7 linked regions of the Homo sapiens genome follow. The protein of the gene in region 2 purifies or fractionates together with the protein of the main gene of each other region. This does not show direct contact. Each region holds a gene or a part of one and is shown on either strand. Other genes may lie near its edges.

Evidence for each region.
Region 1: the proteins of CREB3L2 (region 2) and SH3PXD2A purify together in Homo sapiens (co-immunoprecipitation; one large-scale study listed by IntAct). This does not show direct contact.
Region 3: the proteins of CREB3L2 (region 2) and GAN purify together in Homo sapiens (co-immunoprecipitation; one large-scale study listed by IntAct). This does not show direct contact.
Region 4: the proteins of CREB3L2 (region 2) and KIF1C purify together in Homo sapiens (co-immunoprecipitation; one large-scale study listed by IntAct). This does not show direct contact.
Region 5: the proteins of CREB3L2 (region 2) and R3HDM1 purify together in Homo sapiens (co-immunoprecipitation; one large-scale study listed by IntAct). This does not show direct contact.
Region 6: the proteins of CREB3L2 (region 2) and PPP1R3E purify together in Homo sapiens (co-immunoprecipitation; one large-scale study listed by IntAct). This does not show direct contact.
Region 7: the proteins of CREB3L2 (region 2) and MAP3K20 purify together in Homo sapiens (co-immunoprecipitation; one large-scale study listed by IntAct). This does not show direct contact.

The regions. Positions count from the first base shown.
Region 1 is NC_000010.11:103,596,417-103,600,576, forward strand, and holds part of SH3PXD2A (SH3 and PX domain-containing protein 2A), read right to left. Parts: 3' UTR 1-4,160. UniProt on the Homo sapiens protein: Adapter protein involved in invadopodia and podosome formation, extracellular matrix degradation and invasiveness of some cancer cells. Binds matrix metalloproteinases (ADAMs), NADPH oxidases (NOXs) and phosphoinositides.
Region 2 is NC_000007.14:137,883,328-137,887,487, reverse strand, and holds part of CREB3L2 (cyclic AMP-responsive element-binding protein 3-like protein 2), read left to right. Parts: intron 1-1,985; coding exon 1,986-2,085; intron 2,086-2,366; coding exon 2,367-2,493; intron 2,494-4,160. UniProt on the Homo sapiens protein: Transcription factor involved in unfolded protein response (UPR).
Region 3 is NC_000016.10:81,352,628-81,356,787, forward strand, and holds part of GAN (gigaxonin), read left to right. Parts: intron 1-1,777; coding exon 1,778-2,128; intron 2,129-4,157; coding exon 4,158-4,160. UniProt on the Homo sapiens protein: Probable cytoskeletal component that directly or indirectly plays an important role in neurofilament architecture.
Region 4 is NC_000017.11:5,025,150-5,029,285, forward strand, and holds the end of KIF1C (kinesin-like protein KIF1C), read left to right. Parts: 3' UTR 1-3,252; downstream 3,253-4,136. UniProt on the Homo sapiens protein: Motor required for the retrograde transport of Golgi vesicles to the endoplasmic reticulum. Has a microtubule plus end-directed motility.
Region 5 is NC_000002.12:135,534,117-135,538,276, reverse strand, and holds part of R3HDM1 (R3H domain-containing protein 1), read right to left. Parts: intron 1-4,160.
Region 6 is NC_000014.9:23,299,664-23,304,528, forward strand, and holds the start of PPP1R3E (protein phosphatase 1 regulatory subunit 3E), read right to left. Parts: upstream 3,197-4,865; 5' UTR 2,914-3,196; coding exon 2,497-2,913; intron 2,196-2,496; coding exon 1,773-2,195; 3' UTR 1,635-1,772; intron 1,202-1,634; 3' UTR 1,095-1,201; intron 1-1,094. UniProt on the Homo sapiens protein: Acts as a glycogen-targeting subunit for PP1. PP1 is involved in glycogen metabolism and contributes to the activation of glycogen synthase leading to an increase in glycogen synthesis.
Region 7 is NC_000002.12:173,228,852-173,233,011, reverse strand, and holds part of MAP3K20 (mitogen-activated protein kinase kinase kinase 20), read right to left. Parts: intron 3,324-4,160; coding exon 3,279-3,323; intron 821-3,278; coding exon 790-820; intron 693-789; coding exon 553-692; intron 1-552. UniProt on the Homo sapiens protein: Stress-activated component of a protein kinase signal transduction cascade that promotes programmed cell death in response to various stress, such as ribosomal stress, osmotic shock and ionizing radiation.

The sequences.
Region 1 (4,160 bases), on a different chromosome or scaffold from region 2:
AATAAAATAATTACAAAAAGAAAAAAAAATGACACATTGCACTCTCCAGCCAGAATGATGTGTGTGAATGACACACTTGCTGCCAGAAGCTGTGAGTCCCTTGGGACCTGCCCATTGCCAAGGACTTGTTCAATGGAGACAGCTTGCCTGGTATTTTTTTTTCTCTAACCCCATGTTATTTAGTTCAAGTGGGAAGTTACCAACACTTGCATACACAGACACACACACACACACACACACACACACACTCTCTCTCTCTCTCTCTCTCTCACAACACATGGCCCTCAAAAAAGTGAGGGAATCTTAATTATTTAGCAATGTGGACAGTTCTCTTCCCAGAGAGCTCTGCTTTGAGATTCTCAAAGACTAAATATCTAGATGGATATACGCCAAGGGAGAGACCCGCACAGGGCACAGTCCCATTCCAGGCACAGAGATCTGTGTCTGTGCAGAAATTCACCAAATAGGGGGTTGAAGTAGCAAGCATACAGTACTGGAGGTGGAGGGAACAAGCCACAGGGACGTCCCTGTCACCTTGAGGGGCAGAGCTCTGAGGCTCCAACCCAGAGGAAACTTCCCATTCTGTTGCTTTCTCTACCGGTGCTGAGGAAGGAGGCCAGATTGGTACCTGTTGTGGGAAGTTTTGTCTGCAGAGAAACTTGAATAGACCCCCCGACTCTTCCCGGAGCAGAATTTGTATGGACTCTCTGGGTGTGGAGCCCAGGCAGGGCTCACTTCTCAGGCTGAAGTCGCTGAGATGAATGGGCAGCCCAGGCTCAGCCCCAGGCCCTGCTGCAGGCTTGTGGGAATTGGTGTCTCACCAGGGTGTGCGCGGCTCAAGGTTCTCACATCCCCCAAAAAGATCTGGTGACTTCTAGGCTTCCTGCCTAGAAACTGAACTGAGGGCACCCAGTTTTAGAAAGATTCAAACATACACCAGAAGGATCACAGCCCAAATATCAGGACACTGGGGTGAGAGAGGGCTGCTGGGAGTCATTTTTAGGCCAGGTCTCTCTGAGCAGCTGGCTGCACCACAACAGAAATCAAAACAAGGAACAGCTCCCGAGGGCCTGCCTCTGCTCCAGGGACTGGGGCCTAGAGGTCAAGGGCCCCATGCCTGAATCCCTTTCTTCTGGGTGGATCTGGCAGGGACCCCTATCATCTTCCCAAAGAAGGGGGAGAGGAGAACGCCACAAGATCAAACTCCACCAACCCACCCACCTGTTCCACAGCTAGGATTCCTTCAGCACCCCGCTCCCTGCCTCTTGCTCTCTGAGCGCCACTGGTATTCCCTCCATTGTCCCCAATGAGCCCTGGCATCCATCTTGGTAATATTGCACTTTTCCTGTCTCTCAGATTGTTTCCATTTTTGATTGAGAATGCAAGGTATTTGGAGGGGTAGGGGAAGTGAGTAACCTTAAAGAAATAATATATTAGTTAAATACAATAACAGGAAAAATAGGGGTTATTTTATCTTTTTCCCCTTATTAAAAACAAGAACTACCAAACCAAGGTCTAAACTTAAATAGTCCTACACCTATTCTGCAAACACTAGTAATAGGAAAATAATGCCTGACTGGAATTCCCTTGTCTTTTTTCCTTAGATGATAAAAGTAGTAACATGCCTTGCTGAGGAAAGCAATGGATATAAATGCCTGTAAAATACGCTGCTCTAACATCTGAAAGTGATTAAAATGATTCTATATAATGCCTTCGTCAAGATGGAAAATCAAGGAGGAAGAAAGAGAAACCTTTGGGGCCAGGCTTAGGGTAGACGGGGCTGAGGCCTGGCAAGACAGCCCGTCTACAGTCATTGGACATAGGGGAAACCCACAGGGCATGGGGCACACCTGCTGCTCAGGGTTGCCCCTTTCCAGCTCTCTCTCACTGCCCCCAAAGTCCCATGGCCTGGTGAGAATAGTGAGGAGGAGAGGGGCAACACAGCCAGGTCTGCTGTCACAAAGAGGGATGAGGTGGGGGGAGATGACATTTTTTTCCCCTTGCAATAAAAGAAAAAGGTCTTGAAACGGAAAGGAAAACAAAGCACCAAATGCTGCATCTTCGGGCATTATATGAACCTCAATAATGACCTCAGAAGGGCTCATTATGGTTAAAGTTGCAGTATACAGCAATACAGTGTCGTTTCACATTTTCAGTCGCAACTCATGGGAAACTAGGTTTGGACACTGCGGAGATTTTGTTTTTCTTTTTCCTTTTTTAGTCCGATCTGGTTTTCCTCCAGATGGGTCAGAGCCCTAGGCCCCCTCCCTCCTCTGCCTGCTGCCGGCAGTATCCTTCAGCATCACAAAGCAGCTCAGTAGCTCAAGGGAAAGGCCCTCTCGCCCTGGCTAGGGCTAGGAGGCCAGGCGCACAAGGCCTGGTACCCCCTGGCCATGTCGGAGAAGGACTGGCATGCACCCTTCTTGCTTCAAGTATTAATATTCTCTTTGGGTTTGCAGGGTTTGTGCTGTGAGTTAGGGGGTGAGGGGGCGAGGTGCGAAGACTGGGGCATGGCAATCCCTGTTCACTGCCCAAATCTACATGCTGTCACCAGATGGCAGCATTCCCCACTTTTCCTGGATGCCTGAGCAACTCCCAGCCATCCTTGGGGCTGGATGTCACAATGTAAACATGACCACACAATAAACTATAATGGCAGTGAGGAGGAGCACGGGATTAATGTAGTGGGGAGATCTGTCATTAACTAGCTGTGGGATTTTGGAAAAGTTGTTTCCTGTCCTTGGGCCGCAGTAACAGGAAGGGATGGGATAGAGACCTCTGAGGTCTCTTTCAGTCCTGCATTTTAATGACTCTATTACTTACAGCACTGGGGGTCAAGGAGAGGGGGTCCTTGGGGGGGGCTGGGAGAATGTGGGGGGCAGTGCAGGTGGTGGGGAAGGGCAGGAAAGGCAGGCTCTCGGGAGCACTGTGGTCCAGTCCAACTGAGATGCTCTGTGCTTGGCAGACATGCTCTGCACTCCCTCCTGGCCTGGCTGGCGCACTAGTGACTGAACTGGCTCAGTGCAGACATCTGAGGAGCGAGGCTGCAGGGCCCTCCCCCTGGAAGATAGCTACATTGAAGGTTCTTTACCTGACAGTCACTCTACTTTTAAATTTTATTTTAAATAGTCATAAATTACTTTTTTTCTCTTAATAAATATGTGCTGTTTAAAAATGAGAAAAGTATATACTGCATCTTTAAGTAATGCACTTTGCTCTCTGGGTTTTTTCCATTCTACCTTATTTAAAGTGCATTAATTAAAAAATAATGAACCACTTCTTTATCATTATTGTTCAAATAAGTACAAATAATATTAACATGAAGACACTAAACCACTACCATTAGTACTGCAATCTAGCAGATTAACTCAACATCCTGCTCTATTTAATACTGTCCAGCAGAAGAAAATAACTAATTTCAATTTTAAACAAACTCACAAAACAAAAGGAAACAAAACAATCTCACCACAGGCCTTCGACAAAGAACACGAGCCATTTGCTCTAGCTGCCAGGCATCAGTGTATGGCGAGGGACAGGGGCTTAGGGTTGCCCAGGCAAGGCCTCTGGGATGGGGTGTGGTGGGGTAGGGTAGGGGTGGGGGTGGGTTTTGAAGGCACTGAGACACTGGGTCCCATGCTGCCCTGCCTGGGTGGGGAGCAGGGTGAGGGAGGGCCTTTCCTCCTCTATAGAAAACACCAACCCCCAGTCCAGGGACCCTGGCAGCTGAATCGGTGGCTGTGAGGCCCAATCTGTCCGAAATCAAAGGCACGTGTGGAAATCCACTCCCAGCGAAGGGGGAGTCCTTGGGGGAAGCCGGCTGGGCTTCTGGAGGGTCCCCTCTGAAATGTCAACAATTGAAAAACACAACCCAAAGGTGACAGAGGACCTACAGGGAACTTTATTCTCTCGCTTCTGTCTTCACTGGGGCACTGACCCTCGGGAAGACCAGGTTGGCTCCTGGCACAGGGATCCTCCATCTTCTTGGGCACCTGTGGCATTGCCAGCAGGCCAGAGGGGGTGGCTGGCGGTGTTGGCTCCAGTCTGACCCAAGGGGCCAGCCGGGTCCCCCCTCTGCCCATAGTGGGGACAATGGCTGCTTCTCCATGCTTCATACGTAAGGCTTCCAGCCCTGCCCAGCTGGGGAACACACGCAGAATGGC
Region 2 (4,160 bases):
ATCTGGCCACCTTGGCCTCCCAAAGTGTTGGGATTACAGGCGTGAGCCACCGCGCCTGGCCCAGAAAGGAGTTTTGAGTCCAGAAAGCATCTACTCTGTGTGCTGAGGGCTGCTCCAATTCACCCACCACTCCTATCCATTTAAACTGCTGAAAGCAAAATCATTCTTGTGGCCAACCTGTCCTTAATTTGCTCAAATTGGGAGAACTTGTTTCATTGGTACTAGCTGGGGGTGAAGATGTAAGCCCAGGAAAAATCTGCTTGTCCTTCTAGCACCTGAATGCTATTCGGGGGTAGACTGTGGTGAGAAGCAAGTTATCTGCGAAAGCCCACAGCATTCTGTGAACAAATGATTTGATGATGTTTTCCAGTGAACTTATGTGGCTGTCTAACATTGTTACATCACAGCACACATTTTCCGAGAATCCTTGAGACCCAAGAGAAAGCATCTGCTCATAAAATCTTTCCACTTTGCCATATGCACTGGGTTTGGGGGTGGGGGATGAGGATGAGGAGGAGCTTCAACTCTTTACACCACTCACAGGGAACTCTTCCCGGGTGCTCTAACTCAGGAGGGTGTGTTGTCAGATCCTTTTCTATGCCTTGCAGTGTTCAGAATTTGCAAAGAATTTTACCATCTGCTCTGTGTGCTGATGTCACACAGAGCAGAGTATATAAGACTGTTCTTATCCCTCAAACTTTGCCTTTTAAGGAGAGGCACAGTTGTCCAATTTTAGGGATAAAACGTCTCCTTTTTTTTTTTCTGCTCTTGCTCTCTTGTCTTTTTCCTGGAGAAAGGCTAGAATCTGTTTCAAAGGATGGTTTTAAAGACCCTTGACTCTGGGCTTGAGGGTCCAGTTGAGCAGGCATCTTTGTTCTTTCATATGTTGGCTTCGTTTCCTGACTCTGGAGGTGCTGTGAGCGTTTAAGAACCACAGGCTTGAGCTGCAGGTGGCTGTTTGCCTCTCTGCCTTAAACAGAGCCGTTCTTGTTTTTCCTCTCCTTTCTCTCTCTCTCTTCTAACCTGCCTGTGAATGCCTGTTACTCTGTGTTGGCATTTCCAGTCACAGCCCCCACCTCTGGCCTTTCTCTCTCTCTTCTAACCTGCCTGTGAATGCCTGTTACTCTCTGTTGGCATTTCCAGTCACAGCCCCCACCTCTGGCCACTCCTTCTGTTGTTCTCTGCTGGTCATTTTTTATTTTTCCTTCTCTTTGCCTTTGTCCCTTTTTTATGTTTTTGTCAATGTTTCTCATCTCTTGCTTAAATGAGTTCTTCTTTTAATCGACATTTTCTTAGTCTGTTCAGGTTGCTATAACAAAATGTAATAAACGAGGTCACTTACAAACAACAGAAATTGATCTCTTACAGTTCTGGAGGCTGGGAAGTCCAAGATAAAAGTGTTGGGAGATTCCGTGTTGGGCGAGGGCCTGCTTTCTGGTTCACAAAAAGCAGCTTCTTGCTGTGTCCTCTCATAGTGGAAGGGAAGCACTCTAGTCTTTTCAGCTCCTTATAAGGGCACGAATCCCATCAATGAGGGCTCCATTTATGACTTAATCATCTCCCAAAGGTGCTGCATCCTAATACCGTCACATAGAGGACTGGGTTTTAGCATAGGAATTTAGGAGAGACACAACCATTCTGACTTTAGCCACCATCCAATCAGAGTGTTCCTTTTCCTTTGTTCTCAATCGCTGAGAAACAAGCCACAGCCTGTCAGGGGTAATGTGGAGGCAGTTACCTCTAACTCAGGGCAGTGCAAGAACAGGACTTTCAAGTGTGAAGGCTGATTCTGAGCCCCAGTGAGCTCTGTGACAATGGTGCTAGAAGGTACTGGTGTTCGTATCTTCTTCCAGAGGAAACTGTCCCTTGGGGCTCTGTTGAAATGCAGGCACAAAGGCACGGCGGCCTTCTTGGGTCACATGGAGAGATCAAAAAGCATCTCTTCTCTGTCAGACTCCCCTCACGGCTGTTGTTATCATTGGCAGGACTCTCCTTCAGCAACTCCAGAAGCTTCAGACTTTGGTGATGGGCAAGGTTTCTCGAACCTGCAAGTTAGCTGGCACGCAGACTGGCACCTGCCTCATGGTGAGCTTCCCAGCAGGGTAGCACAGTGACCGCCCCTGGCCTGGCCCCTGTCTCCCCTCTCCCTCCACTTGCCAAGGCCAAGTGCTGTGCTGTAGGAGAAACCACATGGAGGAACTCCACTCTGAGGCTGTTCCTCGGTGAGGCACTCTGGTGATGTGACTGGTGGGTGCAGTCCACTGGCCTGAAGAGGAGAGTCTGTGTCCCTGGGTATAAAGCTGTGCTGTCCAGAGGCTGAAGTCCACAGCCCCTCGTGTTCTCTCTCCCCTCTTTCTCTCCCACAGGTTGTGGTGCTGTGCTTTGCCGTTGCATTCGGCAGCTTCTTTCAAGGCTACGGGCCCTATCCTTCTGCCACCAAGATGGCTCTGCCCAGCCAGCATTCCCTGCAGGAGCCCTACACAGCCTCCGTGGGTAAGACAGCATGTGGCAAGTTGGGCAGGGTCTTGTTTTATTTCCCTAGAGCTGGGTTTCTCAGTCTTCCAAAAGGAATCTTCTGTGAAAGTCCAATGTTTAAAAAGTGGTAAAAGTGGAGCTTCTCCCTTTGAAGAGGCAAGTGGGGGTTCCCCTGGGGCCCCTCATCCACTGGACTGCGGCATCACTGGGAATTCTCCAGAGCTTGACAGAGCACAGTTTGCAAACTGCTGTTCTAGACTGTGTTCCCTGATCCATTCTGACATCTAATTTTTGAGTTCTGATAAGGGAGAGGGAAGCAGATGAGGGAAAGAGTCTGTCGCTTTCTGTGACGTTTTAAGAGAACTGCTGTGTTTCTGCCTCCACTGAGTGGAATTGTATGAGTAATGTAATGCAATGTATATAGTAAGGGCTTGTAAAGTGAAATTAAATAAACAGCAAGGTCAGGGCCGGGCGTGGTGGCTCACGCCTGTAACCCCAGCACTTTGGGAGGCCGAGGCGGGCAGATCACGAGGTCAGGAGATTGAGACTATCCTGGCTAACACTGTGAAACCCCATCGCCACTAAAAAATACAAAAAAATTAGCCGGGCGTGGTGGCAGGTACCTGTAGTCCCAGCTACTGGGGAGGCTGAGGCAGGAGAATATTGTGAACCTGGGAGGCGGAGTTTGCAGTGAGCCGAGATCGCACCACTGCACTCCAGCCTAGACGACAGAGCGAGACTCCATCAAAAAAAAAAAAAAAAAGAATCAGCAAGGTGAGGAGTTCAAGACCAGCCTGGCCAATATGCTGAAACCCCGTCTCTACTAAAAATACAAAAATTAGCTGGGCATGGTGGTGCATGCACCTATAGTCCCAGCTACTTGGGAGGCTGAGGCAGGAGAGTGGCGTGAACCTGGGAGGCGGAGGTTGCAGTGAGCCGAGATCGTGCCACTGCACCCCAGCCTGGGCGGCAGAGCAAGACTCCATCTCAAACAAACAAACAAAAAGAATCAGCCTGCCTTCCAAAACCTTATGCCCAAGATCTAGAGAATATGGGGACTCCGGTGTCAGATAAGAAGCGTATGGTGTTCTCACCTAGAAATAAAGGGATGGTGAGTAAGGAATACACACACAAATTCACACCTACACCTATAGGAATGAGCATGGGGTTAGGCAGTACAGTAGTCCCCCCTTATCTGAGGTTTTGTATTCTAAGCTTTCAGTTACCTGTAGCCAATGAACATACCTGCAGTTACCTTAAAATAGCTGAATACACTATAGTAAGAAACACTACCTGCAGCCAATAAAAATACCTGCAGTTATCTGAAAATAGCTGAGTACACCACCATAAGAAATTTTGAGAGAGAGAGGCCACATTCATGTAACTTTTATTAGAAGATATGGTTAGAATTGTTCTATTTTATTATTATTGTTAATTTCTTACTGGGCCTAATTTCTAAATCAAACTTTATCATAAGTACATATGTATAGGAAAAGGCATATGAACCCTACATGCTATATGCCCATATATAAACCCTGTATGGTTTTTCCCATACATATATACCTTATACCATATATATAGGGTTCAGTTCTATCTTCGGTTTCAGCCGTCCACTGGGGGTCTTGAAATGTATTCCCCATGGATAAGGGAGGACTACTGTACTGGATTTGGGATAGGGAAAATTT
Region 3 (4,160 bases), on a different chromosome or scaffold from region 2:
TGCTTTCTTTATCTAAATATATTCATTCTGTCCAGAGTTAAACGCAGTGATTCTCATCCTTTTTGAAGGTTTTGGTTTGATTTCATGCTTTCTCTCTTCTCTCAGCACTAGTGGGTGGGTGTGTACGTGTATGATTGTTAAAAGTAAATGAATTTAAGTTAATCTGGGGACAGCCCAGAGATGCTCTGTAGCATCACATAACCAGGGCTAAGACCAACCTCTCCTCCACCTTGTAAAGTCAATCCAGCAGCAGTTATTAGTATAATGAGTTATAAGCCAGTAAGAGCCTATTCATGTTCAGGCTTGGATTTGAAAGTTGAAACATTATTTACAGATTGAGTTCTGTGATTTGTTCCCAATTTAAATTTAAAACGATAGTTGGGGCCGGGCGCGGTGGCTCACGCCTGTAATCCCAGCACTTTGGGAGGCCGAGGCGGGTGGATCACGAGGTCAGGAGATCGAGACCATCCTGGCTAACACGGTGAAACCCCGTCTCTACTAAAAATACAAAAAATTAGCCGGGCGAGGTGGCGGGCGCCTGTAGTCCCGGCTACTCGGGAGGCTGAGGCAGGAGAATGGCGTGAACCCCAGGGGGCGGAGCCTGCAGTGAGCCGAGATTGCGCCACTGCACTCCAGCGTGGGCGACAGAGCGAGACTCCGTCTCAAAAAAAAAAAAAAACGATAGTTGGAATGTAAGTTATAACAAACTCCTGAATTGGCAGTTTTGTTTTATTGAAATGCAGTTGAGTGTTTTTTTCACGTGCCTATATTTGAAGAGTCTACAGCTGCCTGCTGTCTTGTGGCTAAATATAATGTCATATAAATGGAACATTTTCCCCTACTTGTGGCTTACTCACCATACTACTTTCCACATTTTTGTTGCTCAGTTTCTAAGATGATTGGCAATTATACTTTTTTAAAAATCTGTGGTACAAAAAGTGTAAAATGTAAAAATGTTTCTTGCTATACTCCTCATGAAGTCTCCCTTGCATTTGCGAATGTGGGTGAAGTGCCCATGCTTTGGGGTCGTCCACTTAGGACTGTGGCAATATTTTAGAGAACTGTTTCTTTCCTGATGCTTTGGAGCACTGTGAAGTCAGTGGAGGAAGAAGCATTAGTCAGAAAATTGAAGAAAATTAAGGAAAAGTAGATGTTCATAATGAGAAAAAAAAAACACCCTTGTATTAGGGATTTATTCCAAAAAGTAGTTTTGAGACCTAAGTGTATCTGTCTGTGTACCAAATTGCACTGCGTACAGTGTTTTGGGATGCGGAATGAGGCTTCTGAAACACTGGAAACCCCTCTCCCTTCAAGGGGTTAGCATTCAGGTTGGCATGCCATTTAGCGGAAGAGTGAACTTCATAGGTGGGGAGGCAAGATTTTCATCAGTTCTGATGCTGGTACTTAATCATGTTGACTTTACCATAGAATGTAGAACTTTCCATTTCCCAAGCATTTGAGTCATTAAGGTTTTTCTCTGAATTACAGAAGTGAACAACATGGACAGTTCACCCTAAAAGGGTTATTGGTGGTTGACATTGGTACAGCAAGGGCAGAGCTGGGAAAAGTTAACCAAGCACACATTTGCTTATGTTGGTGCCTTCCAACTCTTGGAAAAAAAAAAAAAAATGCTGGGTTAAACCATATGAAATTGCCAATATTCGATTATCTTTGATCTAAAATAAATGGAAATTTCATGTGGCCCCAATTAATAGGTTAGTGGTTTGGGTTTTAAATGTACACATTCAAATATAAGATAATTATGCTACTTTTTTAGATCAGGCTAAATGAAGATACAATCCAAGATGTTGTTCAGGCAGCTGACCTGCTGCTACTGACGGACCTTAAAACCCTGTGCTGTGAGTTTTTGGAAGGCTGCATTGCTGCTGAGAACTGTATTGGTATCCGTGACTTTGCACTACATTACTGCCTCCATCACGTTCATTACCTTGCCACAGAATACCTGGAGACTCATTTCCGAGACGTCAGCAGCACGGAAGAATTCTTAGAGCTGAGTCCTCAAAAGCTTAAAGAAGTGATTTCTCTTGAGAAGTTAAACGTTGGCAATGAAAGATATGTCTTTGAAGCAGTAATTCGATGGATAGCACATGATACAGAAATAAGAAAGGTACCTGTCATTTATAACATGGTCAAATTTGCCTTTTTATTTCTTTTTAATTCAAATTTTAGTTGTTTTATTTTTCTTCTTCATCATGAAAGACTTACGATGCAGCAATCTAAAAGATACCTGTAAAACATGTTCCCCTATATCATGAAAGCAGTTGGTTTTTCAGACCAGTCTGCAAAAGCCCATGCCACACAATATATCAGTGAAAATATTAGCCCTTGTAAGGAGCGTAATATCCTTTGTATGTTGTTTTTAATGGGAAAATGCATTTCAAGCTTAAGCTGGAGATTATAGAAACGCAGTATCCCCACCCTTGCTCTCAGCATCCTGACCTACTATATCACTAGGCTAACCTCTGCCAGGCCTCAGGTGCCTGCAGCAGGCAGGGGGGTGGCACGTGGATCGATGGCAGGGGTGGAGGGGCATGGGCCTGAGGAGCTTCAGGTGTGATTGACACCACGCAGGAGAAAGCAGGCAGGCTCTGGAGTTTGTGTGGCAGTGCAGTTTCAAGAGGGAAGGTTCTGGGAGTGAAGGTCTTAAAGAATATCAGCCTCTAGATCCAAATTGTGAATACCTTGGAGGAAGGAGCAAAATCACAGGACTTGAGGGTTTTGAGGGGGCAGAGAGTCTCAGTCTGTCTCCCAGGCTGAAGGGCAGTAGCCAGAGTGGCACGATCATAGCTCACTGCAGTCCCAACCTTCCTGGCTGAAGTGATCTTCCCACCTCAGCCTCCGAGTAGCTAGGACCACAGGCGTGTGCCACCATGCCTAGCTAATTGTTTGATTTTTGTAGAGACAGGGTCTCGCTGTGCTGCCCAGGCTGGTCTCAAACTCCTGTGCTCAAGCAATCCTCCCACTCTAGCTTCCCAAAGTGCTGGGATTACAAGTGTGAACCACCATGCCCAGCCAGGACTTCATTTTTAAGTCTGATTATTATAAATAAGACACTAGCTCCAATTACTGTTTTCAAAATAAGAAATATATTAGGTGTTAGAGAGTGGATCTCACAATGTATAATTTTACTGTTAATTGTTCTTGTAAGTTAAAACTGGACTGTTAAATTTTGATGATTATCTTATAATTTTTTGAATTCTGTAAGCCCATAAGTATGCATGTTTAGAAACCATATTTGTAGTATTGGTTTTAATTGGGACAGGTAAGGACAGGTAGTGTTCTGCTTTCCATGTTAGTTGGGGAAATTGGTAAAGGAGATAGAAAAATGAGAAAAATTTCCTATGTGCTCCCACTCACCAAGACCACAGTGGGACATGCTGCTCCTTGCCAGCTTCCGTCCTGCCCTCTTCTTGCCTTAAAGCAAGGGAGATGCTTAAGGTTGGCTGGTTGCTGGGAAAACGAGGCAGTTCTTTGTCCTTTGGTCAGTTTAAACTTCATGCTGTAAAGACAGTTGATTTTTAAAACTCACAGTTTTATTTTACATTTATAAAATACTTTCGTCAGTTCAAATTTAGTGATTGAGCAGTAAAAGTGTAAATTCATATTAGTCGTCTTAGATATTTTTGAACAGTAATTACTGCAAAAATGATTATATAGTACTCAGGTTTTTTTTTAAACTTTGGCTTTTGTATATTTTTCTTGTATTATTAATGTTGATGTCTAAGTTTACCATATTGTATTGAGCTATTACTGTATATAATATTTGTATAAACATGATTTAACTCATGGCACATCCAAATGTGTGAAATAAAGCAAATTATAGCTGGTTCTTTTCCTGTCTTTTCCTATTGAAATGGGAATCCTTTAAGGTGTAAAGGAAGCTGCTTGAAACTTTTACAGTGATACCTCAAATAAACTGATGATTTTTAAAAATTAAACTTTTACTTATCAAGACTCTGGGAAGTAGACAGTTAGGGCCAGGAGAAGATATTCAAGCAGCACGAGTGTGTCTCACTTGCCTGGTAATAACCTGAGTGTTAACAGTTTGTTTTCCATGAGGTGGAAAATGTAGATTCTAAAAATGATGTGTTGCATTTTCCATTGTTTTCGCCCCATCTTTCTTCCCTCTTCTGCAGGTC
Region 4 (4,136 bases), on a different chromosome or scaffold from region 2:
AGGTGTGAGCCACCGCGCCCGGCCTCCCCTGCTTTCATGTTTGCTTACCCAGTGTCTCAGTCTGTGCCAGCAGCACCACTGTCTGTTATGGACAAAGCACAGAAGCGGGGATGCGAGGGGAGGTAGAGGGACCGCCAGCCTGTCAATGCTTAACTGGCTGTTGCTGACAGATACAGAAGGATTTGTGGGGTACAGAGGAGTTCTGCTTTAAGTCACCTAACTTACTTGAAAGGTCTCCCAAGCAGCCAGTTTCTCTTGATAGTGAATGGGTTGGGCAAGCATACTGCGCTTACCTGATTGTTTTCATCCTGGTTGTGTTACCTGCCTTCTGGCAGGCTACATCATTGTTCCCAGTCGTTATTTTATTTGTGTTAAGACTGTTTGTTGGCCAGGCGCAGTGGTTCACGCCTGTAATGCCAGCACTGGGAGGCCGAGGCAGGTGGATCACGAGGTCAGGAGATCGAGACCATCCTGGCTATCATGGTGAAACCCCATCTCTACTAAAAATAAAAATAAAAAAATTAGCCGGGCATGGTGGCGGGGGCCTGTAGTCCCAGCTACTCAGGAGGCTGAGGCAGGAGAATGGCATGAACCTGGGAGGCGGAGCTTGCAGTGAGCTGAGATTGCGCCACTGCACTCCAGCCTGGGCGACAGAGCGAGACTCCATTTCAAGAAAAATTAAAAAACTGTTTGTTGCCTGCTTGTTTTAATGTTCTGGCTTGAGGCAGCGAGCCCTTGACTATGCCACATTGCCAGGATTTTGCAGGTTAGATTGTACTACAGCACTGCCTTTGGCTTGCCAGACTCTGGAGTCCCCACATTTTCATCCTGTTCTCAGGAAAACACTTTGACCCACTTGAAGCTCTGAGCTACTGCTTCACAGCTTCCTGGGGTCAGTCTCCAGCCAAAACCATAGATATCCCAACTGCAGCCAAACCACGGCTCTGGGCGAAGGAACGATTAGGTTTACTCTAGGTTTCCACACCCTGATGCTCCTGCCTTTACTTTGACACCTCTGACTGCCAGGTTTTCACAGACCTGTTGACAGTGACTCAAGATCTGGAATGTAATGGATGGTTTGGCAACAGTGTTTGCTTGAGCAGTTTAAAATCTGGCCAGGGAGACTCAATGTGAGCAAGAAAATGATAGAATACCAAGTTTTCTGGAGGTCAGAGGGAGCTGAGTTGAGTGTTACCGAGAATGCTGTGGGGTTTGAGATGAGAAAAATAGCTTGCTAATTTAAAAGACGGATTATTTTTCCCTAAAGACCTTGACTTATGTAAATGTATATTATCCATAATTTTAAAAATCCACTTATGGCTGGGCACAGAAGCTCACACCTGTAATCCCAGCACTTTGGGAGGCTGAGGCAGGAGGATCAGTTGAGTCCAGGAGTTCGAGACCAGCCTGGGCAACATAGTGAAACCCTGTATCTACAAAACATAGAAAAACTAGTTGGGTGTGGTGGTGTGTACCTGTAGTTCCAGCTACTAGGGAGGTAGGAAGATCACCTGAGCCCATGGAGATTGAGGCTGTGGTGAGCTGTGAAGGCACCACAGCACTCTGGCCTGGGCAAGAGTGGGACTCTCTCAAAAAAAAAAAAAAAAAAAAATCCACATATCCAGCCTTCCAAGTCAGTCTTTAATAATGTGCACGGGCCAGGCACAGTGGCTCACACCCGTAATCCCAACACTTTGGAATATTAGGGTGGGAGCATCACTTGAGGCCAGGAATTTGAGACCAGCCTGGGCAACATAGTGAGACTGCCCCCCCCATCTCTACAAAAAATAAAAATCAAAAATAATACTGTGGGCAAACTTTACTTAGATTTTATTCAGAGTAGTGCCTGTTTATTTTTCATCTGTGCTACCTGTGCCGGCATTCCATATGCATTTGATTTAGTCTTTAAAGTACCCCGGTAAAATAGGTCTTTTGTCTGCATTTTTCAGATGGGAAGACTGAGGTTTTGTTTATTTATTTTTATTTATTTATTTTTTGAGACGGAGTCTCGCTCTGTTGCCTAGGCTGGAGTGCGATGGCACAATCTTGGCTCACTACAACCTCCGCTTCCTGGGTTCAAGCGATTCTCCTGCCTCAGCCTCCTGAGTAGCTAGGATTACAGGCGCCCACAACCGCACCCGGCTAATTTTTTGTATCTTTAGTAGAGACAGGGTTTCACTATGTTGTCCAAGCTGGTTTCGAATTCCTGACCTCAGGTGATCCACCCGCCTCTGCCTCCCAAAATGTTGGGATTACAGGCGTGAGCCACCACGCCCAGCCTATTTATTTATTTTTTTAGAATCAAGATCTTGCTATGTTGCCCAGGCTGAACTCGAACTCCTGGGCTCAAGCAATCCTGCCTCCCAAGCCAAGCAGCTGGTACTGCAAGCATGTGCCACCGTGCCTGGCTCCTGAAGACTGAGGTTGGTTTAGATTAATGAGTTGCCCAAATTCAGACAGTTCTTAAGTGGCAAAGTTAGGATTCCAACCCAGGTCAACATAACTAAAGCCCAAACCCCATCTCACCCCTCTAGGCCATCAAGTATTGGCTGGGTGCGGTGGTTTATGTCTGTAATCCCAGCACTTTGGGAGGCGGAGGCGGGAGGACTGTTTGAGCTCAGGAGTTTGAGACCAGCCTGGGCAACATAACAAGACCCTGTCTCTACAAAAATATATAAATTAGCCGGGTGTACTGGCTCACACCTGTAGCTACTTGGGAGGCTGAGGTGGGAGGATCGCTTGAGCCTGGGAGGTCAAGGCTGCGGTGACCTGTGATTGCACCACCAGGAGACCCTGTCTTAAAAATGTATATATAAAAATAAAAAGAACATCAGACATCACCATCACCTCGCTTAGAATCCATGGGGCCTTCTCCTCAAATTCAATCTTCCCAGGCATTTCATGAACTTGCGTCTAGTTTCTGTTCCCTCTCAAATTGCCCAGGCTGTCCTGTGAGTGACAGCAGCTATTTCGTGGGCCTCCTCTGGAATCATGAGAAGTCACCCAAACAATCTCAGTTTTCTAGCTCACTCCGTCTTGACATTTCTACACTGTCATCCTTGGTTTTCTTGGAAATTAATTTGCTTTTCTTCATTGTCTTTCTTTGGAGCTGCTTTCCTTTTGTTGGTTACTATTTTATTTTTAGCTTCTCACACCATACCGACATATGTTGGTTATTCTTTTAGACATGTTTTTTGTTGTTGTTGTCACCTGGAACTTTTGTATCTTGAATAAATTTGGGGATCAAATACATTTTTTCTCCACCAGTCTTATTTATACCTTTCTATATTCAGAGCTTCAAATTTGGTTTGGTTTGAAATTGTTCTCCCCCCAACCTTTTTTTTTTTTTTTTTGAGATGGAGTTTTGCTCTTGTCGCCCAGGCTAGAGTGCAGTGGCATGATCTCCGCTCGCTGCAACCTCCGCCTCCCGGGTTCAAGCGATTCTCCGGCCTCAGCTTCCCAAGTAGCTGGGATTACAGGCATGTGCCACCATGCCCGACCAATATTTGTATTTTTAGTAGAGATGGGGTTTTGGCATGTTAGCCAGGCTGGTCTTGAACTCCTGACCTCAAGTGATCCGCCCACCTCAGCCTCCCAAAGTATTGGGATTACAGGCATGAGCCACCATGCCTGGCCTTTTTTTTTTTTTTTTTTTTTTAACTTTTATTTATTTTCGAGAAGGAATCTCACTCTGTCGCCCAGGCTGGAGTACAGTGGTGCCATCACAGCTTATTACAGCCTCAACCTCCCAGGCTCAAGTGATCCTCCCACCTCAGCTTCCTGAGCAGCTGAGACTGCAGGTGCATGCCACCATGCCCAGCTAATTTTTTGTAGTTTTCTAGAGGCAGGGTTTTGTCATGCTGCCCAGGGTGATCTGGAACTTCGGAGCTCAAGCAATCCATCCATGTCTGCCTCCCAAAATGCTGGGATTATAGGCGTGAGCCAGTCACCTTTTCCCTTTTATTTTATTTTATTAATTTATTTTTATTTTATTTTTGAGACAGAGCCTTGCTCTGTCGCCAGGCTGGAGTGCAGTGGTGTAATCTCGGCTGACTGCAACCTCTGCCTCCCAGGTTCAAGCGATTCTTCTGCCTCAGCCTCCCGAGTAGCTGGGATTACAGGCGCGTGCCACCATG
Region 5 (4,160 bases), on a different chromosome or scaffold from region 2:
TTTAAAAATATTTTACACCTTATTTTTACCATACCTTGTCTTTATTTACATATACAGATACTTAACCATGGTGTTAGAATTGTCTATAGTATTTAGTATAGTAGCATACTGTATAGGTTTGTAGCCCAGGAGCAACAGGCCATACATATCATATAACTTAGATATCTATAAGGCTATATACCATGTAGTTTTGTGTAAGCACACTCCATGATGTTGGCACAACAAAACTCTCTAATGACACATTTCTCAGAATTTATCCCTAATGTTAAACAAGGTGTGACTGCAGTTTGTTCCTTTTTTAAGGCAGCATAGTATTCCATGGTATGGATGTATCACAGTTCAATAATTCACGCAGCGAAGGACATTTGGGTTGTTCCCAGTAAAAAACAAACAGATACTCAGTAGTTCTGTATGAAGGAAGCATCTTTCCCAAGAACGTTTTTAAAATGAGAACCCACTGGGTGCGGTGGCTCATGCCTGTAATCCTAGCTACTAGGGAGGCTAAGGCAGGAGAATTGCTTGAGCTCAGAAGGCGGAGGTTGCAGTGAGCCGAGACTGCACCACTGCACTCCACCCTGGGCGACAGAGTGAGACTCTAAGTAAAATAAAATAAAATAAAATAAAATAAAATAAAATAAAATAAAATAAAATAAAATAAAATAAAATAAGGGCTCACTAAAATGAAGGCCTAGGCTGGGCATGGTGGCTCACGCCTGTAATCCCAGCACTTTGGGAGGCTGAGGTGGGCAGATCACTTGAGGTTGGGAGTTCAAGACCACCCTGGCCAATATGGCAAAATCCTGTCTCTACTAAAAATACAAAAATTAGCTGGCATGATGGCTCGTGACTATAGTCCCAGCTACTTGGGGGGGCTGAGGAAGGAGAATCACTTGAACCTGGGAGGTGGAGGTTGCAGTAGGCCGAGATTGCGCCACTGCACTCCAGCCTGGGTGACAGAGCAAGACTTCATCTCAAAAAAAAAAAAAAAAAAAAAAAAAAGACAGACTAATGCTCACTTTAGCTATTGTTTTGTATACATGTTGCATACACGTACAAAGAATTTTGACTTCACAACAGTAAGACTTTTTTTTTTTTTTTTTTTAAATTCCAGAGCTTCTCTCCCCACTGAGGGGCAAGGTAACAAAGTAAATCCACAGTTAAGCTACCTCATACTGTAAGGTGATATTTTACTCTAGTTATGGAACTTCTTTCTTTCTGTCCTAAGAGCAGCAGTCCCCAACCTTTTTGGCACCAGGGACCTGTTTGGTGGAAAATAATTTTTCCCCAGATGGTGCAGGCGGTGAGGAGGATGGTTATGGGATGAAACTGTTCTACCTCAGATCATCAGGCATTAGATTCTCATAAGAAGCACGCAACCCAGATCCCTTGCATGCGCAGTTCACAGTAAGGTTTGCAATCCTATGAGAATCTAATGCCACCGCTGATCTGACAGGAGGCAGAGCTCAGGTGGTGATGTTCACCGGTCCACTGCACACCTCCTGCTGTGTGGCCCAGCTCCTAAGGGTTGGGGACCTCTGCCTTATAGGACAGGTTAGCAAAGTTAATTGTACAACTAACCCACAAAAGTAATTTATATTTGTCTTTCATCAAACTAATGTTGTGACAAGTCAAATTCACTATTTTAAACGCTTAGATCAGACAATATCAAGTTATTCCCTCTCGAGAATGGTCAAGAATAAAAACAAATGTAGTTTATTTTCTCTACCTAATTTCTTTTGCAGATGAAGTTGTTATAGGGAGTTGTAGATAAAAACTTTAGTAAAGCAAACATGATTTAAACATGCTGTGCAATCCACTATTTATGAAATAGGCTGGGTGCAGTGGCTTATGCCTGTAATTCCAGCACTTTGGCAGGCTAAGGCAGGAGGATTGCTTGCGCCCAGGAGGTGGGAGACCAGCCTGGGTAACACAGTAAGAACCTGTCTCTACTAAATTAAAAAATTAGCCATATGCCTGTAGTCCTAGTGACAAGTTTGTAGTCGTAGTTACTTGGGAGCATAAGATGGGAAGCTCCCTTGAGCCTCAGAGTTCAAGGCTGTGGTGAGCTATGATCCTGTCGCTGCACTCCAGTCTGGGTGACAGGGTGAATCCCTGTCTCTTAAAAAAATAAAAAATGAAATAAGGGGGCTCAAAAACCTTACACCTTGCCTAAAGAAGTGAGCTGACAGGTAGAAATTTGGAAAAAACTCACAAATATAAAATTCACAAGGCAAAGAGGGAAAAAAGATCATAAACTATAGGGCTTTCAAAATTCTCAGAAAAGGAAATTAAAGTTAATAGGTGTGTATGGAGACTAAGAATGGGTAAGATGAGGGAAAATAGTAAAGATAAAATCTAGATATAAAAAAACCAAATTGCTGGAAAATAAGGTACAAAACTAGTTTGAGGCCAGGATTTAGTTTCATCTCTATTTCATCCCTCAGCCAATAACTAATTGAATTAAATTCTGGAAATGATATACAGTCATGTTGATGCTAACGTCTCATTAGGTACAAGCAAATGTGTTTAATTATATAACTTCCTTATTTGAGAAGCAAAGTTAACTTGACAAAATTTTGTTTAATTATACGATTTAATTCTTTGCACATGTCCGTATTACTAAACATTATGGGAAGTCTCGGGGATTAAGTGGAAGATGATTTAATTTTTTTTAAAGTTTACAATTATACTGAGAAAAAACTGACTTCCTTCTCTTCACAACAGCCATCTCATATTTATTTATTTATTTATTTATTTATTTATTTATTTATTTATTTTTGAGACAAAGTCTTGCTCTGTCGCCAGGCTGGAGTGCAGTGGTGCAATCTCAGCTCACCGCAACCTCCACCTCCTGAGTTCAAGTGATTGTCCTGCCTCAGCCTCCCGAGTAGCTGGGACTACAGGCACCCGCCAACACGCCCTACTAATTTTTGTATTTTTAGTAGAGATAGGGTTTCACCATACTGGCCAGGCTGGTCTCGAACTGCTGACCTTGTGATCTGCCTGCCTCGGTCTCCGAAAGTGCTGGGATTACAGGTGTGAGCCACCCCGCCTGGCCCTTCATTTTAGTTATCTTAAGTTATAAGAAATAAATTATTATCCCTATATGCAAATGTGGTTATAAAGACAGAGTATTGATTCTGTGGTTTGGTGCTGCAATAGCAATTTGAAAATTACATTACCATTTGTTACCACACCCCCTTGACACACTAATTCCCCAACTTATTTACAATAGAATATGGAAAGTCAATAGTGAAATTTTTTAATTCAAATAGCAATAGTATTTTACAAACCTATCAAGCCTTGTTTATCACTGTAATATTCTCAAGAATGGGAAAAACAAAACTGCTACCAATTTTCACTACTTTATTTCTGAGAAATTAAAACTTAATACTAACTCAAATGGATGTAATTAGGTATATTAAAGTACCAGTTCAAAAAAGAAGAAAAAAAACCCTATTACTTGCAAGGCATGGCAATGCACATCTTCTGCATAATATTTGACAAAGCTTATTTCAAGTTTATATAATTTTCTATTGCTACTGTCATGTAAGACCTCTTTGGAGAAGCACCCATTTGTACCAGGTTCAATGACTTCGGAGGCCCACCATATATATACCTCACCTCGTTATTTTGCATAAGGTGCAGCTTGTCTTGAACCCTGACTGGACATTCCTGTCAGAAAGACTTCATAATATAACTGTCTTCATGCTAACCTTAAATTTGTTTAACTATACAAATTCCAAGAACACTATTATATGTGAAGACTCAGTAAATTTTCAGAAATGCCTCTGAAGAGAAAGGAATAGCACCTCTCACAAGTTGTTTCACAGAAAAGAAACACTCAAGTGTTGATAAATAAGGAGAATTAAAAAGAACAGCAACAAAACTGTAGTCACATATGGTTGTAACAATTTCAAATGATTTGCTTAATCTTAACTCTGTATTAAACAGTTCAAATGTCATCTGGTAGCACAATGAATATGGATAGCAAGTATATAAACTAGAGCTTGAAACATTTAACAGCTAAATAAAATTTAAAAGATATTACAATAGTTAACCACTACATGGAGTACACTAATTTTTATTCCCAATAATCCATTTGAAATGTATTCCACAGACACTTGCATTTTAATTCAAAGTCAAAAAAACTTCCATAA
Region 6 (4,865 bases), on a different chromosome or scaffold from region 2:
AAAGAAAAGAGAAGGAAGAGACACAAGGAAAGAAAGAGAGAAGCAAAGAGGTTAGGAATAGGGTAAGAGAAAAGGAAAAACAGCAACCAGCAGAGGAATCACTCCCCTGTTAAGGTTAACCAGGAGGAGAGGCTTATATAAGGCATGAATGTGAGTGGGTATGAGAGTCCAGCTTTCCCACTGCACTTGCTCTGGTTATGGAGCAGACTGCCATCTTCTGGTGCCATTTACTATTCAAGTTGCTTTGGTGTTTTTTTGTTTTTGTTTTTTTTTTTTTTTTTTTTTTACAACCAAGTGGATTGATTGAAATGCTTTGATTCTTCATTTGAAATGTTTCTATTCCATATACCCATTATCTTTTATCCTCACAAAAGCCCTTAACATTGTTTCCTTTAATCTTTGGGGTTCTTAAGCATCATTTCCACCAACAGAGATGTACCTACCCACAGTTGTCTCAGAGCATGGAGGCTGAAAGTCTGTGAGGACAAGAGTGAAATGGAGCAGAGGATAGGCTGTGGTTTGGAAGCGGCTCTGGAATACGCTGGGGGTGGCGGTGGGGCTGAAGGTTGGTTATGGGATGCTTCCTGGGCTCCGGAACATCTGTGCCAAAAACTGGAGGACCCATCCTCGGCTCCAGCCAGACGCTTGGGGTGCTATGTATTCTGAACCATAGCACTAGGTTGGAAAATTTGGCTCCTAATCTATACTCTGCCATGTACAGATCACAAAATATCATACAAGGAGCCTTAAAAGGTCATCTAACCTAAATCCAGTTTCCCAAGGAGAACACTGGGGCACAAAGAAGTGAGAGGTAACTCGCCCAAAGTTATATAGCTAGTCAGGGACTTCCTCTTCGGAGACAAAGGAAATCAGAATAGTGATTCTTCTGATTCACCGTCCCTCGACAAACAGTCCACAAAGTGCTTGGAGGTTATTAAAAGGCACCCCAGAAAAGTAAGGCTGGCATTTTCCTGGAAGCCCCTGAGTGTACAACCCCTGAGGCTCAGTATTTGGCTATAAAAACAGGTCTGGAGTTGCTTTGGCCTCCGTTTTAATCCCTAAAGCTGCCTGGAGGCTGGAGCTCTGATAGCTACCTGTCATCACTCCCCAGCCAGTCCGCGGACACCGCAGCCAGGAACTGTCAGAGGTGACAAGGGAATCCCGTCATAATGCCAAGGACCAAGGAGCAGTGGCCAGGTTCCTGGGATTAAGCAAGGCAATTATGGCTGAGTTAAAGCTAGGATGGGTAGGACAGGGGGATCTGAGGTGGAAAAGGCCGGTAAGAAGAGGGAATGCGCCAGCAATGTAAATGCCTTCGACTGGGTGGGCTACTTCACATCATACCTCCTCCATCTCCAAAAGGTTCTTAACCTTCTTCAACCGCCTAGGCCTGATGGACCTCCTCCCTTTCTCCCAGAGCCCACTCACTGAAGGGAAGGCCACCATCATCCCCATTCTTTTCCTTTTTTTATAATCCCTCCGGTGCCGTTTCGGGTCTCCTTCCTCCTATATTCTGAGTTCCTTCCACTCACATCCAACCAGCTTTTAACACCCGGATCTCCCGGAGCTTCTTTGGTTCCGCTCACTCCCCCCGCCCCCACGCCCCCACGCCCCCACGCCCCTGATTTCCCCACCCTTTTCGCCCTCCCCGGCTTGACTCCCTTGGACCGCTCCCGCCAATCCTGGTCTCTCCTACTCCTCCCCGCCACATCGGGTCGCCCCGCCCCCGGGTGCCTTTGGTGTTTTCCGCCGTCGGCCGCAGGCGCCTCGTCTCAGATAAAGTGGATCCAGCCCTGCGGCTCCGGAGCTCCGCCACTGCCCGGGTGCTCGGGCCCACGTAGAGCATAGTCACGGCCGCCGTTGTTGTCCCAGAACTCGTGACCTGTCACACGGTAGCGCAAGGCGAAGAGCAGGGCGCCCCCAATCGGCGGCGCGGGCAGGCGGAAGGCGAAGCGGTCGGCGCGCGGCGGGGGCGGGGCCGGACCGGCGTAGGCGGCTGGCGCCTCGCGTTGGCTCCGCCAGCCGTCGGCGCTCCAGCGCACGCTCACGCGCTTCTCGTAGGCCAGGTCCACCACGCGCGCGCTCCCGGCCACGCCCAGCGGGCCCGCCTCGGCGCGTTCCAGGCAGATGCGCTGCGTCAGCAAGCGGGCGGCGAAGCCGGGCTCGCTGGCCGGCTCCAGGGCGGCGCGCGCCTCCTGGGGGAAAGAAGAAGCGGGAGGAGGGAGCCCAGGGCGGAGAGAGGGGAGAGACAGGGGGCGGTGTCAGAGCAAGGCACTGGACCAATCAGAGGCCGACCCCGGCGTCCAGGCCGGCAGAGTGCGGCCCAGCTGCCAGGGTGGCCTAGAGCCACTCGCAGATGGGGTCCCCAAAAGGGATGGGCAGGCGCAAGCCCAGGGATGGGATGGAGATGGGTGCTCTTTGGCAAATCCACTCCCACAAGCCCGCTGCGGCCGACTGGAGGAGGTCCCCAGGAGGGGAGGTGCCCCCGCCGCCTACCTGGAGGCCGCGGGCGCGGGGCTGGCAGGGCGCGAAGTGGCGGAGGGCGTCCCTCTGCAATTGGATCTGCACGTGGCGGGGCACCCGGGGCAGCTCACCGGGACGGAAGCGGCGCACGACAGCCAGCTCCAACCCCAGTGCGTCGGCGAAACGCACTCTCTTGCGGGTGTCTGGGCTACGGCTGCGGGGCGCCCGGGCCCCGCCGCCTCCGGCTGGTGCAGATCGGGCCCGGCGGCCCCGACTCGGTGCGTGAGCGCGGGATCGGGCCCCGAACCGCGTCCCGCCCTCGCCTGGCTCCTCCTCCGGCTCCTCCTCGAGGCTGGGCCGCTGGCTACGGTAGTAGGCGCGCTCCGTTAGCGCGGCGATGAAGCTCAGGTTGCGGGGAATGTCGGTGCCCGGGGGCCGCTCACGGGACATGGCAGCCCCTTCCCCGGCGGGGCCAGCTCGCAGCGCCACCGCGCTCCCCTCTCTTCCTCTCTCCCGCCCGCCCCGCGTCAGCGCAGAAGTCGCTGGGTCCGCTTCTGCAGCCCCTCGCTGCTGTGTATTCTCCTTGCAGACACCTCCAGGATCCTCCACCTCCCGTTGCTTTGCCTCTCCTCTGTGACCACCCTTCCCTCCCTCTGGCCGTCAGCTTCCAGGGTCTTAGACTATCACATCCTGCCTCCTGCTAGCGGTCTGCTCTGAGCGTGCGCTCAACTGCACTCACCCTCCGGTTCCAAGGCCCTCACGGCCCGGGCGCCCCCGCCCACAGCCCTCTGACAGGTGGCTCCGCTTGTCTTCGCTGCTGCACCAGGGGGCGGGGACTCCACCTTTGCGGTCCCGAGTGAAGCTACTCAACCTTTTAAAAAAAACATCCACGGACGGGACGCGATGGCTCACGCCTCAAATCCCAGCACTTTGGGAGGCCGAGGTGGGAGGATCGCTTGAAGCCTGGAGTTCAAGACCAGCCTGGGCGTCATAGTGAGACCCCTGATCTCTACAATAATAATAATAATAAAATGTAAAAAGTCCTCAACTTTTCCGGCACAGCACAGGAAAGGTTAACGCCGGGAAGAAAAAATAACCTTTCATTTTCTTGCAGGGGAAGGTTCAAAACGCCCAGCATGTGACTTTATCTTTGGGGTTCACTGTTTTCTTTTCTGAAACCTAGGCTCCTGGTTTGGGCAGGGGGTGGTGGTGCGTGCAAAGAAGGAAAGGTCATGAAAGCTAGGTAGAGTCTTTCAAATAGAAGGTGAGAATATGGCACCCGAACTGAGAACTGCAGGAAGACCTAGCTTCTAGTGACCTTGAGCAAGCAAGGCATAACTTCTCTGGAGTCAGTGTTCTCGTGTGTGTGTGTGTGTGTGTGTGTGTGTGAGTGTGAGATGGAGTCTCGCTCTGTCGCCCAGGCTGGAGTGCAGTGGCGTGATCTCGGCTCACTGCAACTTCTGCCTCCCCGGTTCAAGCGGTTTTCCTGCCTCAGCCTCCTGAGTAGCTGGGATTACAGGCGTCCACCACCACGCCCGGCTAATTTTTGTATTTTTAGTAGACACGGGGTTTCACCATCTTGGCCAGGCTGGTCTTGAACTCCTGATCTCAGGTGATCTGCCCGCCTCGGCCTCCCAAAGTGCTGGGATTACAGGTGTGAGCCACCCCTGAACTCAGAGCCATACTCTGAACTCAGTGTTCTTATCTGTAAAAAAGTGGTGGAGTTCTGATTTCTAATCCAAGTGTAAGCCCTTTGAGGGCAGGGGCTTTGTCTGATTCATGGTGAGTTTTAGTATATGGTAGGCACTCAAATTATTGAATGAACAAGCACCCAACAACTCTCTTGGAGTTGGGACTGTGGAATTATAGGTCCAGTGGGAGCTTCCAAGAAGGGCAGAGCTGGCTTTTTCCCCTTTCATTTTTTTTTTTTAACATTAGTGAAAAAAAAAAGTGAAGTTGTTTTTAGTTTTTTTCTAACTTTCCTACTGATCTAATATAGCACTTACAATGTGCTAGGTACTGTTGTAAGGGTTTTACAAATACTAACCCATGTAATACAACCATCAGAGGAATAGAGACTATTATGTCTAGTTTAAAGATGAGAGAATTGAGGGAGAGAGGGGAGAGGACTCTTACCCAGGGTCACATAGTTAATAATTGGGGAGGTGGGATTAGGACCTAAACAGTTTAGCTCTAGAGTCCACGCTCTTACCCGCTTGGTTATATAAGATTAAAACATTTAACAATAATAGTTAACATCCTCAGAGTGTTAAAAGAGGGAATATTAGAGTAGAAATGAAGTCTCTAAATTTAAAGCAGCAGGATAGTTTAACTGTAAAACCACAAGTGACTAAGTTGAAAATAAACCATGAGACACATGTTATCTTATTATTATACAATTC
Region 7 (4,160 bases), on a different chromosome or scaffold from region 2:
TCTCCCTGTGAGTCCTACTATACCATGTATGCACCTTTTTGCTGTTTGGATTATGAGGAAGGAATAGGGGTGCCTGGGGGCAGCTGCTGATTATCAACTTGTGTAAGCATTTCAGCACAGTAATGACCAGCATAGCACTGTTTCCATCTGCAGCCCCTAACACGTGATCTGCTGCATAGTAGGTGCTCAATAAAGATTTGTTGATGGAGGCCAGGCCTGGTGGCTCACGCCTGTAATCCCAGCACTTTGGGAGGCTGAGGCAGGTGGATCATTTGAGGTCAGGAGTTGGAGACCAGCCTGGAAAACATGGTGAAGCCCCATCTCTACTAAAAATACAAAAATTAGCTGGGTGTGGTGGCACGCTTCTGTAATCCCAGCTACTTGGGAGGCTGAGGCAGGAGAATCACTTGAACCCAGGAGGCGGAGGGTGCAACGAGCCAAGATTGTGCCTTTGCACTCCAGCCTGGGCAACAGAGCAAGACTCTGCCTCAAAAAAAACCAAACAAACAAAAAAAGGGTTTGCTGATGGAATGTTGTCCCTTTCTCAGGTACCTTGAAGTGAATGATATGCCCCTTGGAGACAATGCCCATGTCTTTCAGGTCTTCTTCCTCCAGCAGCAGCAGCCGCTTCCCTGTAATGTTGTTTTCTTTAAACAAGCTTGCATATACACTCATCTCTGCTGAAGAGTCACCTGAAGGAAGTGATTAGAAAGCAGAATAAAATTAGATGAAATCACATCCAAAACAAAGTTAACTCCATGATTGAAGAAGGTAACTTATTCCACTTGCCTTTTCTGACGAGCTGCTGAACCCAACAATACTGTGAAAGAGAGGACACATACGGTTTTGAAGATTCACACATGGTCAGTGGCCAGTCTTCACAGTAAACATAGAGTTTTCAATAGATCAAAATAACTTTAATTCCTGGCTCAACCACAAAGGTAAAATAGAAGACTTTCTCTTTGTAGTTTTAAAACCTCAAGCTTTCAAATGGGAGATATCCCTCTCTTCGGGGGTCTTGGACAGTTAAAAGCCCCTTGGTTTTCCTCCTTCTTTGGGAGATATTTTTAAATCCTTTCAAGAGGGTTCTTACTTATAGTGATTTTTCCATTTATGTGCCAGTGGTCCCCTGGATTGCTGAGGGGCACCAGTTTACTCAGGAATTGTATGAGTTCCAGGGACCACACAGCAGTGGACAGAGCAACAGACAGAAGGAATCTTTTGTTCTAGGCCAGGTCATGAAGTAGCCACGTGGCCCCAGCCAAGTCAAAGTGTGGAGCTTCCTATGTAGAATGAGGAGATTGGACCCAGTGACCCTTAGTCCCTGTATATCACAGGGTCTGGGTTTACTGGTGGCCTCTCACAGTACCTTGGTGAGGAGAGAAGGATGGGAGGCCAGACTCAGTCCCTGTGATTCTCTGGGGAGCCCTCAACTCTGGAATTTTATTTAAGTGGCCTGGAAGCCACTCAGCCTCAGAGCAAAGACTAAAAATAGCTGTTAGAACTCAGTGATTTTTCAAAAATTTCTTTTCAAATGACAGGGGAAACTCTGCAGCTAGGGATAAAGAGATGATATCCAGGCTTGTGAATAAAGGAGACCCTGAGTCCTCTTTCCTTGTTAAGCAAGGCTGGCAGGAAAGTGAGACTCACTGGGGCTCAGTGAATGGGAAGAAATAGTGGCAACTGGTGCCAAGTTTCCTTACCCTACGGAAGCCAAAGAGGTTAGCTAATGTTGAAAGCAGGTGCACTTCAAAAGAATACAAAGGGCAGAGAGGGAAATGCCTGGGCCCAAAACCAGGTTGAGCTAGGTAAACAGATCTTTTGAGGAGTTTCCAGTAGCTAGTCTGCACTTTGTGGCACCTGGTCTGTTCCCTGGGCTGGAGCCCAAACCCACTAAGGCTGGCATTACATCTTTTGTTTTTTTCATTTTCATTTAGTGATACCCTGAGCTTGTTAAATAGACCTGGATAGCATAAGTCCCTGAGTTTTATAGAACTTAAAAAAAATTTTTTTTTTGAGATGAAGCCTTGCTCTGTTGCCCAGGCTGGAATACAGTGGTGTGATCTCAGCTCACTGCAACCTCCACCTTCCATATTCAAGCGATTCTCTTGCCTCAGTCTCCCAAGTAGCTGGGATTATAGGCATGTGCCACCACACCTGGCTGATTTTTGTATTTTTAGTAGAGATGGGGTTTCACCATGTTGGCCAGGCTGGTCTCGAACTCCTGACCTCAAGTGATCCTCCTGCCTCAGCCTCCCAAAGTGCTGGGATTACAGGCCACCGTGCCCAACCTAGTCTCTGAGTTTTCACATCAGGAATTTTCATACCTGTTTTGTCACTAAAAAAATAGATATGGTGATGTAACAGACTAAGTTGGATTGTTTCTCAGGGTTTCTATCAAGAATGCAGAGTGCAGGACTTCTTTTGGACTTCAACAGTCTGAGTGCAGCCTCTCAAAAACATAGGGCTTCTCTGGCTAAAGCTACAGAGAATGTCTGGGCGTGCTTGTGTCTATTCCCACTTGGGAGGCCAGAATAAGGCTGGCAAATATGATGCCTCACTTTCAAACAGGCCTGAGGTGGAAGGAAAGCCGGTTCAGCGGTGTACCAGCCCAGCACTGCCTTGACCAGATCCTCCTCTACCATGGCTCGAGGCCATCCCTGTTCTTGTAAAAAGATTTAATATCACTTTTTTTTCAAGTATGTTCATTTGTTTTCCCGAGCTGCCACTTTAATTTCCTCATGGGTATTTGTTATTGTATTCTGGAATAGTTTCAGAGTAATTTAGGAAGGTAGAACCCACTTAGAAGATTTGCAGAGATACTTGCTTTACTCTTGAGGCTTTATTTTCAATCATTATTGCATTAAAAACAGAAAAAAAGGCCAGGCACAGTGGCTCACACCTATAATCCCAGCACTTTGGGAGGCTGAGGCGGGCACGTCACTTGAGGTCAGGAGTTCGAGACCAGCCTGGCCAACATGGTGAAACGCCATCTCTACTAAAAATACAAAAATTAGCCAGGCATGCTGGTGGGAACCTATAGTCTTAGCTACTCAGGAGGCTGAGGCAGGAGAATCGCTTGAACCTCAGGAGGTGGAGGTTGCAGTGAGCTGAGATCGCACCACTGCACTCCAGCCTGGGAGACAGAGTGAGAAAAGAATTTGTCAACCTCTCCTAGTTAGACTTTCCTAAGGCCCAATCTCTTCCCCTAAAAACTTAGGGAAAAATTTATGAAATACCTGCTCAAGTCAAATAAGGCATGAATACAAAGAGCTTACCACATCGTCTTCCGTCCATGCACCAATCTCAAAGGAAGGCAGCAGCTGCATGGGAAATATGCATGAAATGAAAAAAAAAAGTAATATTATCATTGTCTTTTTGGTTCATCCTCTTGTCTCACTCTTTCAGCTCTCAGCTGCTGCTCTGGCTTGGTTCCTCCTGCAGGTTGGGTTGAATGGAAAACAGTTTTCCTGACCTTAAGAGGCAGTTCTCAGTGCTCCAGTAATGTTCACCAATCTCTCAGTAACAATTCATGTACTTTGGGAGCTGTATCATATTCCTTTGTTGGTACCTGGTTTTTACATCCCACAATCAAGCCTCAGCAGTCAAGCAATTTCTGACATTTTCTCAGAGACCTAGAGTCTTCCTCAGAGTCTCAGCCAACATGAGGACTGTTGGATTATTAATGAAAATTCCAAAGCAACCACTTAGTAACCAGATCATGTATTATGCCTGTTCTCAAGGGGGAATTTCTAAGTGTTGAAAGATCTCATTTGCACAATATTTTAAAAACCAAATGTTAGCACTCACGGATGAAGAAGGACATGGGAAATTGGTACGGTCCTAAGAAACCCAGGCTGCAGAGTTGCTCTAACTAAAACAGATTAAAATACCTCCCTGTGAGGTTCACAAGTACAAATGAAGATGCCTCCAGAGGACTTCAGCCTGCACCATTTTCAGAGCCAAAGAACTACTTACTGTCTTCAATATATGCCCCATGGCCATCTAAATAATAAATGCTTACATAATTTTTAGAAGTCTGTGTGTCCTATAAGTCAAATTAGAGTTTGGTACAGCTATTAGCTTTAACTAGCCTAACTTGCCCCCCAAAAATGAATTGCTTATGAGATAATATGGCAAATTGTCACTCATCTTCTGTT